2 separate regions of the Homo sapiens genome follow, and region 2 is linked to region 1. Evidence: fine-mapped expression QTL. A gene starts in region 1. The other region holds a variant in brackets. All regions are shown on one strand. Distances are between the middles of the regions.

Region 1 (8,341 bases):
TCTTTAAAATCCCTATTTCCAAATATAGTCACATTCTAAGGCACTGGGGATTAGGACTTCAACATATGAATTTTGAGGGCTACAATTCAGGCCAAAACAAGTTATATGCAATTTGTACCATGAGATTATCTTTACTCTACATACATGAAATGGCCACCAGAGGTTGCTCCTTTTGCAAAAGACATGGCAGAAAGACAAGTAAGTAAGGGGATTTGAACTCTGATTTTTTGGCTGGTGAGAAATAAAATTGTTAGTTGGGCTCTTGCCCATTTCTAGTTTCATCCCAACTTTTCTGTAGTGGATTACAGATGGCCGGAAATTCTTTCCTACCTTCCCACTGAGAGGCAGAATCTATTTCCACTCTCCTTGTATCATGGCTAGGTTGCTGTGTGACTTGTAAGGCTGGGGTGTAAGAGATCTGCAACTTTTGCCTTTGCCGCTTGGAATGCTCTCTCTGGGAAGTGAGCTGCCGTGTAAAAAGTTTGCGAAACTTTCTGAAGAGAGAAGCCCTGTGGAGAGAGGGCTGAAGCTGTTCACGGATGTTTCAGCCTGAGCTGATCTCCCAGCTGAATGCAGCCTCATGAGTGACCTCAGACAATCCCAGTGGAACAGATGAACCACCTACCTGAACCCTGCCTAGATTCTTGATCCATAGAAACATGAGCAAATAAAATCATTGCTATATAAGCCGCTAAATTTTGGAGTAATTTGTTACACAGCAGTAGATAATTGAAGCCATCACCTATTAGTCAAACTGACTTTAGAGATTAATAGTATTCATTTCATATTCTTTCCCATCTGCCTTTAAAATGCACCAACTTTTTTTTTCTTTTTTTTTCCCAATGGAGTCTCGCTCTGTCGCCCAGGCTGGAGTGCAGTGGTGCGATCTCGGCTCACTGCAAGCTCCGCCTCCCGGGTTCACACCATTCTCCTGCCTCAGCCTCTCGAGTAGCTGAGACTACAGGCACCCACCACCACGCCCGGCTAATTTTTTTTGTATTTTTAGAAGCGATGGGGTTTCACCGTATCTCCTGACCTTGTGATGTGCCTGCCTCGGCCTCCCAAAGTGCTGGGATTGCAGCCGTGAGCCAGCGGGCCTGGGCAACAACAACTTTTTTTTTTTTTTTTGAGACGGAGTCTTGCTGTGTTGCCCAGGCTGGAGTGCAGTGGCGCGATCTCGGTTCACTGCAAGCTCCTCCTCCCGGGTTCACGCCATTCTCCTGCCTCAGCCTCCCGAGTAGTTGGGACTACAGGCGCCCACCACCATGCCCGGCTAATTTTTTTTTTGTATTTTTAGTACAGACGGGGTTTCACTGTGTTAACCGGGATGGTCTCGATCTCCTGACCTCGTGATCCACCCGCCTTGGCCTCCCAAAGTGCTGGGATTACAGACGTGAGCCATTGCGCCCAGCCAACAACTTTTAAGATGGATTATACATTAGTGTAATTTGATTTCAGATAATTTTTTTTTATTTTTTTGAGACAGGGTTGTGCTCTGTCACTCAGGCTAGAGTGCATTGGTGCAATCATGGTTCACTGCAGCCTCAACCTCCCTGGGCTCAAGTGATCCTCCCATCTCAACCTCCTGAGTAGCTGGGACTACATAAGCACACCACCACACCTGGCTAATTTTTATATACTTTTTGTAGAGACAGGGTTTCGCCATGTTGCTCAGTCTGGTCTTCAACTCCTGGGCTCAAAGGATCTGCCTGCCTCAGCCTCCCAAAGTGCTGGGATTACAGCTGTGAGATACTGTGTCTGGTCGTGGTTTCAGAGAAAATTTTCAGATAAGAACAGTAGGCTTCTGGTGGGGATGCAAATATATATATGTATGGGCTGCTATATGGTAGGAGGAAGAAGACACTTCAAAGAAAGGCTATGAAAAAGTGAGCACATGTTAAAGACAAATGATAATAGCTATTATTTATTGATTGCATACTATATGCCAGGCAGTATATTCAAGTTTTATATGCATGATTTCATTTTACTCTCATTAAAATTCAAAGAAGATGACATTATTATTAATTCTTTTTTTTTTGTAGGTGAAGTAATTATGCCAGAGACATTAGGAGACTTTACCAAGTTCACACAGCTAGAAAGTAGAAGAACTAAGATTTAAATCCAAACCTGTTTGTTTTCAGAGTCAGAGACTAGTTCTTAATCACCTTTCTACACTGCCTCTAAACTTGATCTGCTTTACAATTTTGCTATGGCTTATCCTTTTTGCTTATAGTAAATGCTATCATTCAAAATGCATTTTCTGAACATCTGTTATGTAAAGGCACTGGATATTCACATGTGAAAGATGATACCTATTGAAGGTAAAGAGCAGGAGAAGGTATATAGATGGCAGTGGTGAGACAATTCAGCTATGAGTTAGTGACTGTGATGTCTCTTCCGCTATTTATTCATGAACATTTTGAGCATTAACTTTTTGTTAAATACTGGGTCAGAAGCTGTTGGGTTGAGAAACAGGAAGGAGAGATTGATACCAACTTCCATCACTTTAAGATGTATACTTTTTACATATTAATATTTCTGAAATTATATGTTTTACAGTAATTACTAGCTTAAATGGTAGCATTGTTTTCTTCCTCAGTGGTACATAAAATAATGGTGCTTTTTACAAGTGGTGGAACTTTAGATTCAATAAAGTATGATTTTTGGTCTGCCAAACATGGTTCTTGTTCACCAGATGCTTAATATTTATGATCCTGCAATGTAATGGATTTCTCCCTACATTTGTAACCATGTAACATCCTTCACCAATGTGCCTTTCTCCTTTTGGCCTGAGATAATGCATTTATTCAAGTATGGTTGTTTATTTTCTCTCTATACTGTCTCCATCATTATTCAGCAAATGAAACACTTTCATCTCTCTATCTTCACCCCAATTTCTTTCCTGGGCTCTGATTCATAACTGACACCTGAGTATTACAACTTTCTTGTCTTTATGTTACCGTGAACTCAATACAATGAACCATCTTTCCCTCCAAGCCAGATTATTCTCCAGGCTTCCCAAGATCTATCAGTTCTTGGGAACTGTAATGCACACTTGAAACCTTGGGAGCCATCCTTGATTCTTCCCTCTCCTTTGTTTCACTTGTACATATCTAGTATGCTATTAAGACCTGTACACGAGGCCAGGTGCAGCAGCTCACGCCTGTAATCCCAGCACTTTGGGAGGCCGAGGCAGGCAGATCACCTGAGGTCAGGAGTTCGAGACTAGCCTGACCAACACAGAGAAACCCTATGTCTACTAAACATACAAAATTAGCCAGGTGTGGTGGTGCATGCCTGTAATCCCAGCTACTCGGGAGGCTGAGGCAGGAGAATTGCTTGAACCCGGGAGGTGGAGGTTGTGGTGAGCCGAGATCGTGCCATTGCTCCCCAGCCTGGGCAACAAGAGAACAAGAGCGAAACTGCGTCTCAGAAAAAAAAAAAAAAGACCTGTACATGTTTCTTCTTGCATTGATCTCTCCCTTTGCAGTTCCACTATTGCCATCTCAGTCCAAGCCCTTGTCTAATCATGCGTGGACTGCTATAGTCTCCCTCTGATTCATCTGATCCATTTTCACCACTTTAAGTTTTCTCTAACACTGTAACTGTACTGTATACTTGACTCCCTGCTAAAAGTCATTTAATAGCCCCTTACTGATCACTGGATACATTCCAGACACCATAGCCTGGTATTCAAGGCTCTCTACAATTACCAGTCCTTTCCAGCTTCATCACCCACCACCTAAACTAGAGGAAATGTTCTACACTTTTCAGCTGCCACAATATTTGGCTTGAACCATTTCCTTTGTCTAGATTCTTACTCTCATTCTCTGGGCTTATCCAGCCAGGCTTTCCTTCAAAGCTCAGCTGACTCCTCCAGGAAAAGCATTTCCTGATGGTTTGCAGTTTACAGTGAACCCTCTTCTCCTAACTCCTACAGTGCTTAGTGCATATGTAAGTAATGTAACATTTAGTATGTGTTTCCTTCTATAGCTTTTTATCCTTTTATGCATAAAAATGTCTTTCCAATGAGAATTAAATGCCTTGAGGGCAGGGACCTGCCATATTTCTCCATATTCCCAGTGCTGATGGTCTTTTAGATATAATCATATTTTAGACCTGGAAGTTCACCTAGCCCTACTGATTTCTTTCACAGTTGAAGAAACTGAGGCCCAGAGAGAAGTTATTCAGACTCAGTAGAAAGCCATAGTCCTAGCCAAATATTTGCTAACACTTACAAATTATAGGGGTTGGCTTACGTAGAATGGCAAGATTCAGAAGTGGGGAATGAGGGCACTCTCTGAACAAAGGAAGGCAAGTAAAAATCATCACAGCCGTCCATGCGTGATTGGACAGAAGCCTAGACTGAGATGGAAATAGTGGAACTGGAAAGGAAGGGATCAATGCAAAAGGAAAAGTGTGCAGGTCTTACTAACTTACTAGATAGGTATTTTTGGCAAGTTTGGGACCAGGTGATTCAAGCTGCCCGCTGGGGCACGTGTAGTGGCTACTCGAGGGCAGGGCTGTCCTTTTGCACAACGCACAGGCTCTCGCAAATGGTTGGATGTTCAATGTTTCTTACTTTAGGGGGCTGCCCAGTCTTCTTCTTCGCAGGCATGTGGCTAGAAGAAAGTGAAGCAGGTTGGCTTTCTGGCTCCTCGAGGGCACAGGCCCAGAGGTGGTGAGGACCGGCCAAGGCTCTCTGCTCAGTGCAGCAAGCCAGGGCCCGCCCCTGACAGGAATCCGTTGGCTAAGCAGCCGCTCCGGCCTTGGCCACGATCCCAGGAAAGAAGAGCAAGGGGCTTTCCACCTGCCCCTAGCCTAACCCGGGGCTGGGGACCTCTCGGGTTCCATCGGCTCTTGCCCCGCCTCCTAAGCCGGCCGCCTCCTGTCCAGGCCAGGTTGCCCGCCCCTCCCCTCACGCTCGACGGGCTCGCTCCCGCACCGGGCGCGCGGGTGGTGCGCGGGCACACGGAGGCGGAAGGCCGGAGGGGCAGTCCGCCGCGGGGGCGAGCGCGCATGCGCCTTCCTGGGACCCACGGCAGGCGCGAATCCCAGCGGCCGGCGGGCGGCGGGGTAAGAGCATGGGATCCCGGAGGTTCCGGACCCCAGGCCAGTGTGGGGAGGTGCCGGGGGCTCGGACGCGCCACGAGCCGGCGCAGAGCTGGCGACCCGTCTCCCAGCTCCGCTCCACTCCCAGGGACGCGACGCGAGGCCTCCCCAGCCCTTCCTGCAGGGTCGCTTGTGGGTCGGGTGAGGGGACGCGGTGATAGTGGTGGCACTTGCAGGCTGGGGCGGTCCTGGCACCCTTGTCCTTGCGGTTCTGAGGGCCTGGCCCTCAAGAGGAGGGGCGGAGAAACGCGAGAAGGGATCCCTTTCGCCCCATATACACGCCCGGGATAGCTGCACTCCCCGGTGTTGTGTCCACTGCGGTGGAAGGACCTTTCAGACTAAAAGGAGCAAAGTCGGTTCTGGGATGGGGACGGCGGGCTTGGCATTTGTCGAGATGCACCGTCAGGGCAAAGGAGGACGAAAAGCGCATCTACTGCCTGCCTAGCAACTTCGTGGCCAGTGGATGGGTTAGAAAATTACTGTTTTCTGATTTACAGGTGGAAAAAGTCGCAAATAACCCTTTTTCTGGTTTAAGCAGAAGAGAGTCGTTAAAAGCCTCGCATAATATCTTTAACCACACAGGGCTCAGTAAAATTAGGGTACCTCCCCGCTTCGTACACACAGACGCACACAGCTCCATTCAGCAAATACTTCTTGGGTACCTGCCTTCTGCTAACACTGTTCTACAAGTGGGGAACAGAGAGCAACGACTAAGACAGGAGGATCCCTGCTCACAGGGAGCCTTTAGTCAACACATCCAAGTAATTTCCTTTTACACTTTTTTTTTTTTTAATTGAGACAGAGTCTTGCTCTGTCGCCCAGGCTGGAGTGCAGTGGCACGATCTTGGCTCACTGCAACCTCTGCCTCCCGGGTTCGAGCGATTTTCCTGCCTCAGCCTCACGAGTAGCTGGGATTACAGGAACGCACCACCACGCCCAGCTAATTTTTGTATTTTTAGTAGAGATGGGGTTTCACCATGTTGACCAGGCTGGTCTCGAACTCCTGACCTCAGGTGATCCACCTGCCTCGGCCTCCCAAAGTGCTGGGATTACAGGGGTGAACCACTGCGCCCAGCCCCTTTTATGCTTTTTAAATTGGAATATACCATATAGAAAAATACTGTACGCAAATTATAAGTTGTAACTTGTTAATTTATCCTAAAGTCAACACATTTCCTAACCACTACTCAAATCAAGAAGGAAGATTCACAGCATTTCAGAACACCTCTCTGGGCACCCCTCCCAACCACCATCCCTTCTTTCCTCCCCAAAGGTAACCTCTTTCCTGATTTTTAACACCATAGATTAGTTTTGCCTATTTATGAACCTTTCATGGAACCATATGATATGTATTCTTTGGTGTCCAGCATTTATACTGAAAATTATGTGTGTGAGATTGCACCATGTCATGTGAAAATACAAATCCTGTTAGTGAAAAGAATTAGGAAGCAAATTGAAGGTAATGATACAAACAGTAAGGGGAGGAAGCTTTAGTAGGATAGTCAGGGATGATCTTTCTGAGGGGATGATTTGAGATTTGGCATCAATGACAAAAGATTAGCCATTCCAATCAGTTCTGGAGTTATCCCGTGATGTTTTTATTTTAAATAAGAAAATAATTAGGGCCGGGTGCAGTGGCTCACGCCTGTAATCCCAGCACTTTGGGAGACCAAGGAGGGTGGATCACCTGAGGTCAGGAGTTCAAGATCAGCCTGGCCAATCTGGTGAAACCCCGTCTCTACTAACAATACAAAAATTAGCCAGGCGTGGTGGTGGGTGCCTGTAATCCCAACTACCTGGGAGGCTGAGGGAAGACAATCGCTTGAACCCAGGAGGCAGAGGTTGCGGTGAGCCGATATTGTGCCATTGTACTCCAGCCTGGGCAACAAGAGCAAAGCTCCATCTCAAAAAAAAAGAAAAAAAAACAAATAAAATAAAATAATTTTAGATCATTAGGTGGAATGTACCAATTTTGCCCTAAATTTTTTAGTTGATTTATTATATTTTCTGAATATATTTAAAGTGTATCCTGTGGTTAAAATGGTCCAACATTTTTCAAAGAGAAGAGGAAAATGTCAATTTTGTCGATTTGCTTTTTATTTTTTTTTGTTTGAGATGGAGTTTCGCTCTTGTTGCCCAGGCTGGAGTGCAATGGTGCGATCTCGGCTCACTGCAACCTTCACCTCCTGGGTTGAAGCGATTCTCCTGCCTCAGCCTTCCAAATAGCTGGGATCACAGGCGAGCGCCACCATACCTGGCTAATTTTGTATTTTTAGTAGAGATGGGGTTTCACCATGTTGGTCAGGCTGGTCTTGAACTCCTGACCTCAGGTGATCTGCCCACCTCGGCTTCCCAAAGTGCTGGGATTACAGGCGTGAGCCACCGCAACCGGCATCAATTTGCTTCTTACTTTAAAACCCCAACCTAAGGAAAACTGTAAAAAAAAAAAAAAAGTAAGTGGTTAATTGAGTTTTACTGCTTTTGTATTTTTTTCTCACGATTTGGGATTATTCTTAATGATTCTTAAAAAGGCTCATTTCTCTAAGATGGAAAGTTGGTGTGGTTAATGCAAGTATATTTTGGAAGAAAAGTAAAAACCAAACTAGATAAATTGTTTATTGGAAGACTTTCCCAAACTAAATACAAAGACAAGATTCCTCTTTCTCGCTGTACCAAAGATAAATCATGCCTTTGTCTACGGTTGTGGTTTTATATTTACCTGTAGGTGAATGTGTTCTAAATAGAATTGACTGTGTCATTATCTACATATGTGTTGTTTTTCTTTTCTCAGAAATATTCCCTTGTGAGAGTAAATCTTTACTATATCTTTAGATGTATTGAGTCCCATTTAATAGGGAGATCCACCTTTTGATGTATATTCCCAACTAAAGGACTAGGGAATAAGGAACTTAAAATACCACGTTTCCTTCACATTCCTTCCCACTACCCCTCCCCTCGAATTCTCTATCCTTCTACTTGGTTTACTGGGTTCATTGTTGTAGGTACTGTACTCAGCTGAATCTTGATATCTTTTTTTTTCCCCTTAGGATACTTCTACATAGACATAATCAAGTTTTGACTATTTGGAAACCAAGCATCATTAAAATTCTCTCAAACTCCTAATTGCGAAGAATCGATAACATTTCAAGAAGTGATAACATTTCTCTGAACAAGAAAAGAAGTGATTGACCACGTTTTAAAAGTACTCTGGCACTGGTGCTGTGTTTTC
Region 2 (8,341 bases), 270 kb before region 1:
AGACTGAAATAGAATTATCCTACACCTCCTTAAAATATCAACTATTACGACTCCAATTACAGTCATGCACTACGTAACAATCAATGACAGACTGCACATGGACAGGGGAGCCACCCTATACATATATATCATTTTTAATCTTTCATATCATATTTCACTGTATCTTTTCTACGTTGAGATATATTTAGATACACAAATATTTACCATTGTGTTACAGTTGCCTACAGTATTCAGTACAGTAATGTGCTGTCTAGGTTTGTAGCCTAGGAGCAATATGCTGTGCCATACAGCCTAGATGTGTAGTGAGCTACTCCATCTAGGTTTGTGTAAGTACACTCTATGATGTTTACAAAATGATAAAATTACCTAACAAGGCATTTCTCTGAAGATACCCCTGTTGTTAAGTGATGTTTGACTGTACTTTTAAAATCTTCACTATGGGTGTGAAGTAGAGATTTAAGGAATTAATTCTTTAAAAAACTGTTTTTTATTTTTTAGCTTTTTTGTAGAGATGGGATCTTGTTATGTTTCCCAGGCTGGTTTTGAACTCCTGGTCTCAAGCAATCCTTCCGCCTTGGCCTCCCAAATACTAGGCTTACAGAAGTGAGCCCACTGTGCCCAGCCTAATTCTTACAATTCTGGCAGAGAAATAGTCATTAAAGTTTACTGTACTTTGATATGGCATTCTTGGGCAATAGTTCAGTTCAAAAAACATTCCTTGGGTAGCCACGATGTCCCATGGCAAATTTAAAAATAAATAGTACCTGCCTTCAGAAATAAATTCTGTACTATTCCAGTGAAAATAAAATAAGTATGATGACATATATTATAAGAATTAGTAAGGCAATGCTATACCAAGGGATGGGGATGGACAATGGGAATGGTCCACCCCAGGTACAAGCGTCATCTGCAGAAAATGTAAAAACCTGACCACATCTTGGTTTACTTCTTATTATCACCATACAGTAGCAATTCTAAATGACAACTATACTGGGTTGAATAGTGTCCCCCTCAAAATGTGCATCCTTCCCCGGACTTTGGAATGTGGCCTTATTTGGAAAAAGGGTTGTTGCAAATGTAATTAGTTAAGATGGGGTCATACTGGCATAGACAGGGTCCTTAATCCAATGACTGGTGTCTCTATTTTTTAATGGTGTCTTATTTCTCCAAATGAAGAAGAGGAAAAGAAACAGAGATAGACACAGACAAGGAGAAAATGCCATGTGATGACAGGGACAGAGACTGGAATAAGACGTCTATAAGCCAAGAAATGTCAAAGATTGCCAGCAACCATCTGAAGCTAAGAGAGCAGCAGGGAACAGATTCTCCCTCAGTGCCTTCCAAAGGAGCCAACCCTGTCAACACCTTGATTTCAAACTTCTAGCCTCCAGAATTATGAGACAATGGAATTTCTATTGTTTTAAGCCATCCAGTTTGTTGGACTTTGTTATGGCAGCCCTAGGATATGAAGACAATGACCGTTCCCAACACCCCACCTTCTTGCTACATCACTGATAGTAAAAATGTAACGTGGTCATTATTAAAGTATAGATTGTAACTTATAGTTAGTAGACTAATAGTCTGGAAGTGGAGACAGACATGTAAATATGGATTTCAACACAGCGTGGTAAGTGCCATGATGGAGGTGTGCACAGGCCTCTGTGGGTCACAGAGAAGGTCAGGGTTCAAGTACAGCTGTCCAGAGCAGTGCAGACAGTGCACTCAGGAAAACACAAATGAGTCCAGTTTGGCTGGAACGGATCATTCTGTGAAGGAGAAGAAAAGAGTGGAAAGAAAGGTGAAGCTCTGCTCATTGAAGGACTCTGAAAAATGGACATTGATATGGTGCTTTAGACTCACTCATCAAAGTATAGTCTGTGGACCAGTAGATCTGGCATTACTGGAAGCTTGCTAGAAATGCAGATGCCACTCTGGGAAACACTGTGTAGTGCCCTACTCCTTCAAGTGTGGTCCTGCAACCAGCAGCAGCAGCAGCAGCTGGAGGCTTGTGAGAAAGCCAGCCCCACTCCAGACCTGCCAAATCAGAATCTGCACTGGGCAACAGGATGCCCAGATGATTTGCTTATACACCAAAGGTGAGAAGCACCGTTCCAGGGCATATTAGCCCTCTGCTGAGCCATAATGAGAGGAAGTAAGTGGGTGAGAAGTTAGCTGAGGTGGGAGGTCTCAGAAGGTGGTGATACACTACGGCATGAGGGAACAGTATGAGCAAAGACATCGAGGTATAAAACAGCAGCTCAGTTTTATTGTACCAGGTACTGTGCTACATGCTTTCTATGCACTCATCTTTTGATCTCCATAGTCACCCGGTGTTTTTATTCCAACAGATGGAGGGGCAGAAAGGTGGATAACTGCTGGGTGCAGTGACTCATGCCTGTAATCCCAGCACTTTGGGAAGCCAAGGCAGGTGGATCACTTGAGCTGAGGAGTTCAAGAACAGCCTGGGCAACATGGGGAAACCCCATCTCTCCAAAAAATACAAAAGTTACCCGGGTGTGGTGATGTGCACCTGTAGTTCCAGCTACTTAGGAGGCTGAGGTGGGAGGATCATTGAGCCTGGGAATTGGAGGCTGCAGTGAGCCATGATTGCACCACTGCACTCCAGCCTGGGTGACACAGTGAGACACTGAGAAAGAAAGAAAGAAAGAAAGAAAGAAAGAAGAAAGAAAGAAGGAAAGAAAGAAAGAAAGAAACAAAGAAAGAAAGAAAGAAAGAGAAAAAGAAAGAAAGAAAGAAAGAAGGAAAAGAAGGATGGGGGAGGGGGGAGGGATAGCATGGAGAGATATACCTAATGCTAGATGATGAGTTAGTGGGTGCAGCGCACCAGCATGGCACATGTATACGTATGTAACTAACCTGCACAATGTGCACATGTACCCTAAAACTTAAAGTATAATAATAAAAAAAAAAGAAAGAAAAGAAGGAAGGAAGGAAAGATGGAAAGGAACGAAAGATGGAAAGGAAGGAAAGATGGAAAGAAACGAAAGGAGAATGACCAGCCCAGTGTCACTGGACACGAGGTGGGGATGTAAACTCAGGATTCCTCAACATCCTTCAAATACCCCAAGCCTTCATGCCTTGTGTAGCAGATTCCCTCTACAAGGAATTGCCTTCTTTATCTGTTAAATCTCATTCATTTTTCCAGATCCAGCTCCAAAAGTCACCTCCTGTGTGACCTCCTTCCCAGTTTCTCCCGTCGTTAGTTACATACTCTGTGATGATCCTGAACATCTCTTTCATACCACAATGATAGAATTTGTCATGGTCTGGCTTATTTGGTGCTCCCTCTGCTCTGTTCAACCCCAAATAGAAGGTGATGTTTTTGGAAGTGGAGGAGGCATGTCTCATTCATCTCAGTCTCCCTAGTGCCTAGTTTGGTGCTTCATGCCTAGTAAACACGAATATGGGTTTATTAAAGGTGGACGTGGGTGCCAACTCTGGCTGCATTCCTTACCAGCTATATGACCTTGAGCACATTCCTTAACCTTTCGAGCTTCAGTATTTGCATCTATGAAATGGTGATCATGAAACCTACTCATAAGGTTGATATGAGATATGTAAAAACGCCATGCACACTGCAGGGCACAGAGGAAGTGTGTGATAAATATCTTTTAAGGGATAGAATAAATGAGTAAGCTGACCTGGTGTAAAAGCAGATGGTAATAATAAACTACTACCTATAGAGTCTGTACCAGGCACTATTTAGGGTAAATTATGTACATTACCTCCCCATCCTTCAAATGCCACCTATTGTTATCATTATCATCATTTTATTTTAATAAGTAATTAAACTGAGTCCTATATAGGTTAAGAAGTTTCCTTAAGGTCAAAGAGAGAACCAGACTGGGACTCTGATCCAAGTGGGTCCAAAGTCTAAGCTGCTAGAAAAAAAAAAAAAAAACCCAAAAGGCTTGACAAAAGAACCTCCCCATTGATATAGTGGCCCATCCAAAGATCACACCACTGTACCTTTAACCTCCAGAGATAGAACTGTTTTATCAAATTTTTACCAAAACCTCGAAAAAATCTGAACACTTTTTAAATTAGATTCCTCAATACTAGAAAAATACAGCTGTTAGCAGTCACATGAGACCTGGCTGTTCTTCATGAAATACAAGCTGTGTTAATGGGAGGTATGTTAAAGCTGTTTGTTGCTGTACAGCACTGTGTGTATAACTAAAACAGTCAGGAGCTAGCTTCCCACGTTCAATGAAATGTTTACAGACAGACAAGTTAATAGGCATAAAAGCTATATCCAAAGCATGAGTGATATTCTTTTGA[T/C]GTCAGCTCCATGGAATCCTTCCTGTTACAGTAGTAAGAATTTTTTTAAGGAGATTATATTATAGAATCAGAAAGTGCTTTTCTTTACTGTATGCCATTCCTGTTTCTCAGTTATAAGGGAAATGAATTTAGAAGTTTAAAAAAATCAAATTATTTATCTTAGTGTTCCCTGAAGTTTGCAAACTGCTGAGCAATGTGGTGCTTTGCCCTACATTCTCCTCATTGAGTCTATCTGGGTAAATTAATTACAAGACAATTCTTAGGAATTAAGTGTATTTTAAGTTCAGAGGCATCTGCTTAGAGACTTCTAATACCGCTAAATAGTCCCTTTGGAAATGCACTCGTTAGTATGAGTGGTATAATTTTCATTTCCGCTGGCACCATGGCGTATGACTTCTTCAGTTTCAGCTACCCTCTGATTGACCTGCCAAGGGCATAAACCACTCTGAAGATGTTCCAGCACCATTTGTGCTTCTCCAGTAGGTATAAGAAACTGGATTGATTTGCTCTACATCAAGGAATAATTTAAAAGATAATTTTTCCTGGTTTTAATGTGGTACATTCTCTGTGTAAACACACACACACACACACACACACACACACACACACACACTAGCCTGAACTTATAATAAGCTTATTGGGCAATAGAACAAAACAAATAAACATTTTCTTAGATAACAGATATTATATATGTCCTAAGGACATGAATTAGGAAAAAATCCATGGTGTGATTAATCCATTATGTAAAATGAAAATGCATTTTTAAGTCGAATGCCAATAAGATGTTGGCAGGGAATGGAAGGGGGGGTACTTGGAACACAGAGAACTGAAATTTACATTTGGGATTCTTTCCTCCCCTCTGAAATGAGAATGTGGTGAGTTTTATCACTTGATTCTTGTGAATCTGCTGTGTTCTGGTTTGGAAGAATTCTGAATCAGGGTGATTTTAGGACAGCTGCTGTTTCCCAGGCTCAAAACAAATAGAAGCAGAGTGTGGCCAGCTCTCCATAATTCCCTCAGTTATCCTCGGCATGGCTCTGCAGGGGCATCCCTAGAAAGACACAGGAGAGCCACTCACCATTCAGCCACCCTGTCGACAGATCTAATTTGGAAAGATCAGGTGTAGAGAAAAGAAAACAGTTCTTCGAATAAAACAGAGGCCAAAAAAAAAAAAATGCATAAAATAATCAGAATTTTTAGATATACACAGAGCTGGCATTCAGTTACCTCCAGAAGCACAGTTGACCCTGTGGAATGTCATCAGGTCAATCACTTTCTGATAATGATAGTAAATGGACATTTATACAGAGCTTTAGTGTTTATAAAACATGTCTATATATGGTGTATATCATTTGGACCCAATAACAATCCCATGATGAAGGTTATTATTAGAACTATTAAGAACACAGTCTTTGGAGTCCTGAAAATTAGGTTAAAATCCTAGCCCTCAATGTACTAACTGGACCACCTTGGGAACTTACTTACCTTCTCTGATGCTGTAATAGGAATAAATGAGATCACATGGGGAAAACATTTTCCCAGTGCTTGACACTTGGTATGCTCACAATAACTGGTAGTAGTTGTTGTTGTTATTATCTACTATATTGTGTTGCCTGCTTCAGTGATTTCAAAAGCTCATTCTTTTCCAATCCAAAAATATATTTCTCAAAATGTGGCTTGGAAACCAGTTTCTGAACCTTCTTAAGCAAACATATGTATACGTTGAATGAATGAATGAATGAATGAATGGAAAGAATTCTAGCTCAGGATCAACCAGAAAAAGTATAATGCATTGGGAAGTATTCTATTCATTCAGCAAACATTTATGTCTGAACTTAGTATGGACCAGGAACTATCATAGGCCAGCACACTTAATCTTCTTAGCAATTCTATGAATTAGACATTGTCTTCTTTCACAGATTACAAAAACAATTAGTCCAATAACTTACTTAACTTGCATAGAGACACACAGCCACTACATGACAAAGCCTGGGGTTGAAACCGGGTCTTTGGATTCTTGGTCCAGTGCTTATTCTCAGCACCTTGGCCTCTTGATCCATCGCAAGGATGACACATCCTGTTCATTTCCACATGAGCAGCCTCCACATTGAGACACGATTTTTTTCTAAGCCTAATTCACTTGGCTATTCAGCATGACTCTTGGGTATATAAAGCTATGTCATATCTGATAACATAGTAAAAATGTTGATACAATTAATAAACCTTTATCTACAATATAGTGCAAATCATGGCATACAGAAAAAAATAAAGAGCTGACATGAACTCCCTCCATGATCCCCATTCTCATGCTTTCATACCAGCCACTCCCCACACCTTGCTTACTGATTTAGAGGAAAAGGAGGAAAGAAGATTGACAAGAAAAAAGCTTAGAAAAGGAAATAGCTAACACCCATTCAGAACTGAGAACAGGTAATTAAAGCCTTCAAGAAAAGAATGGAACCACTGCTCACCAACTCCAGCTCTGAGTAAGACATATTCTCTCGTTGGCCATCTTATGGAACCTTCTACAACCTCATGGGCAAAGTGGGCTGCGGCAGTGGGCAATGTATTAAACAACTAATTAAGGTACAGTTGTTTTATAGTTGCTTTAGCCATTGCCTCCCAGTCACTTGCTTTACCTGTGTTAATTCATTCTTTCATTGCATCAATATATTTATGGAGCATCTTCTCCATATCTGGCATATAGTAAAAGTTAATAAATGTTTGCCAAATGCATTTAATTCTTCCCATTGCAGTGAGCCAGATAAACCAGTCTCTACCCCCAAGGGACTGACAGTCTACTTTGGATAACAAGTATCAAACAAATAATTACACTAATAATTACTTTCAATTGTATTAAGTGCTTCAAAAAAGAAGCACAGTATGTTAAGAGAGCAAATAATACATGACATTATTCTAGACAGGGCATAAAGGAAGACTTCCATGAGCAGGTGACATTTAAGCAAAGGAAGGGCACCAGCTTTAAGCAGAGAGTAGGGGCCAGGTCATTCCAGGCATAGGAGCAGCAAACCCTATCATGGCCTGCAAGGCTCTGTGACTTGGTCCTAGCTTCCTTGTGACCTCATCTCTTACCAGTCTCCCTTCAGTCACTCTTCTCAGTTCCACTAGTATTCTATTTTTAAAATACGTCAAATTTGTTCCTATCTTATGAGGCTTTTGCATTTGTTATTCCCTCTGCTTGGAATGCTGTTATCCCAGCTCTTTACGTAACTGGTTCCATCATCTAGATCTCAGTTTGACATGTCCTGCTCCTAGAAGCCTACCCCATCCACCATATTGGATGCAGCCCCACTCCTACTCCACCAGTCACCATCTACCATATCTCAATGTACTGGTTAACTCAGAGCATTTCTCAGTGCCTGATGACTTGCTTACTTGTTTATGTTTCTTTTTGCCAACTAGAAAATAAGTTCCATGAGAATCAGAATCTTGTGTGCCTGACACAAAGTAATCAAGCAATAAAAATTGAATAAATGAATAAAGATTAGCATTTATGAAGACTCTATGTTGGAAAGGGATGTGACATCTTCTGGGACAGAAAGGTCAATGTGGTTAGGATATAGTTTAATGTTTAATTCAATAGTAATTGTTTTTCAAATGTATACGTCTGTGTGTACAACATATATGTAGATAATTGCTCCTCAACCATATTTTAATCAGCTTGACAGTAATCACAGGTGTCTTCTTAGACATCGTACATGTCTTGCATATTGTAGCCACTCAACAAACTTTTTTTTATTATACTTTAAGTTCTAGGGTACATGTTCACAGCGTGCAGGTTTGTTACATATGTATACATGTGCCATGTGCCACTCAACAAACTTTTGACTAATTGGAAAAATAATTCTAGTCTGTTAAGGCATCACTATGTTATCTTTGCATATCAAATGTCAGCTTAGAAAGTGGCTTCCTATCATTATCTCAATGGATCATTCACTAATTTAGCCTTGCCAATGAACAGAGAGTTGATTGTACCAGCCCTAAAGGAGTGCACTTCTTTCTTTACAATTTGGTTCTG

Which allele goes with the higher level. Positions count from the first base shown, and alleles are read on the strand shown. Sizes are in standard deviations (SD) of each study's normalised expression.
As copies of T replace C in region 2, the expression in skeletal muscle of the gene that starts at base 5,016 in region 1 goes down (large effect, 1.3 SD a copy in FUSION).

What was found. PIP is the estimated chance that this variant, and not a neighbour inherited with it, causes the effect.
Region 2: its variant is fine-mapped to the expression of ALG6 in skeletal muscle (FUSION, PIP 0.95).

What each region holds. Positions count from the first base shown.
Region 1 is chr1:63,362,612-63,370,952 of GRCh38, forward strand. It overlaps ALG6 (ALG6 alpha-1,3-glucosyltransferase), which reads left to right and starts at 5,016. Exons shown (of 15, transcript NM_013339.4): 1 at 5,016-5,076; 2 at 8,160-8,341. RefSeq lists enhancers at 4,476-4,615, 5,476-5,585 and a silencer at 4,816-5,295.
Region 2 is chr1:63,095,180-63,103,520 of GRCh38, forward strand. No RefSeq gene overlaps it. Among named protein-coding and RNA genes, the nearest start is that of LINC01739, 87 kb to the left of the region's middle. The variant T/C (reference allele first, on the strand shown) is at 4,303.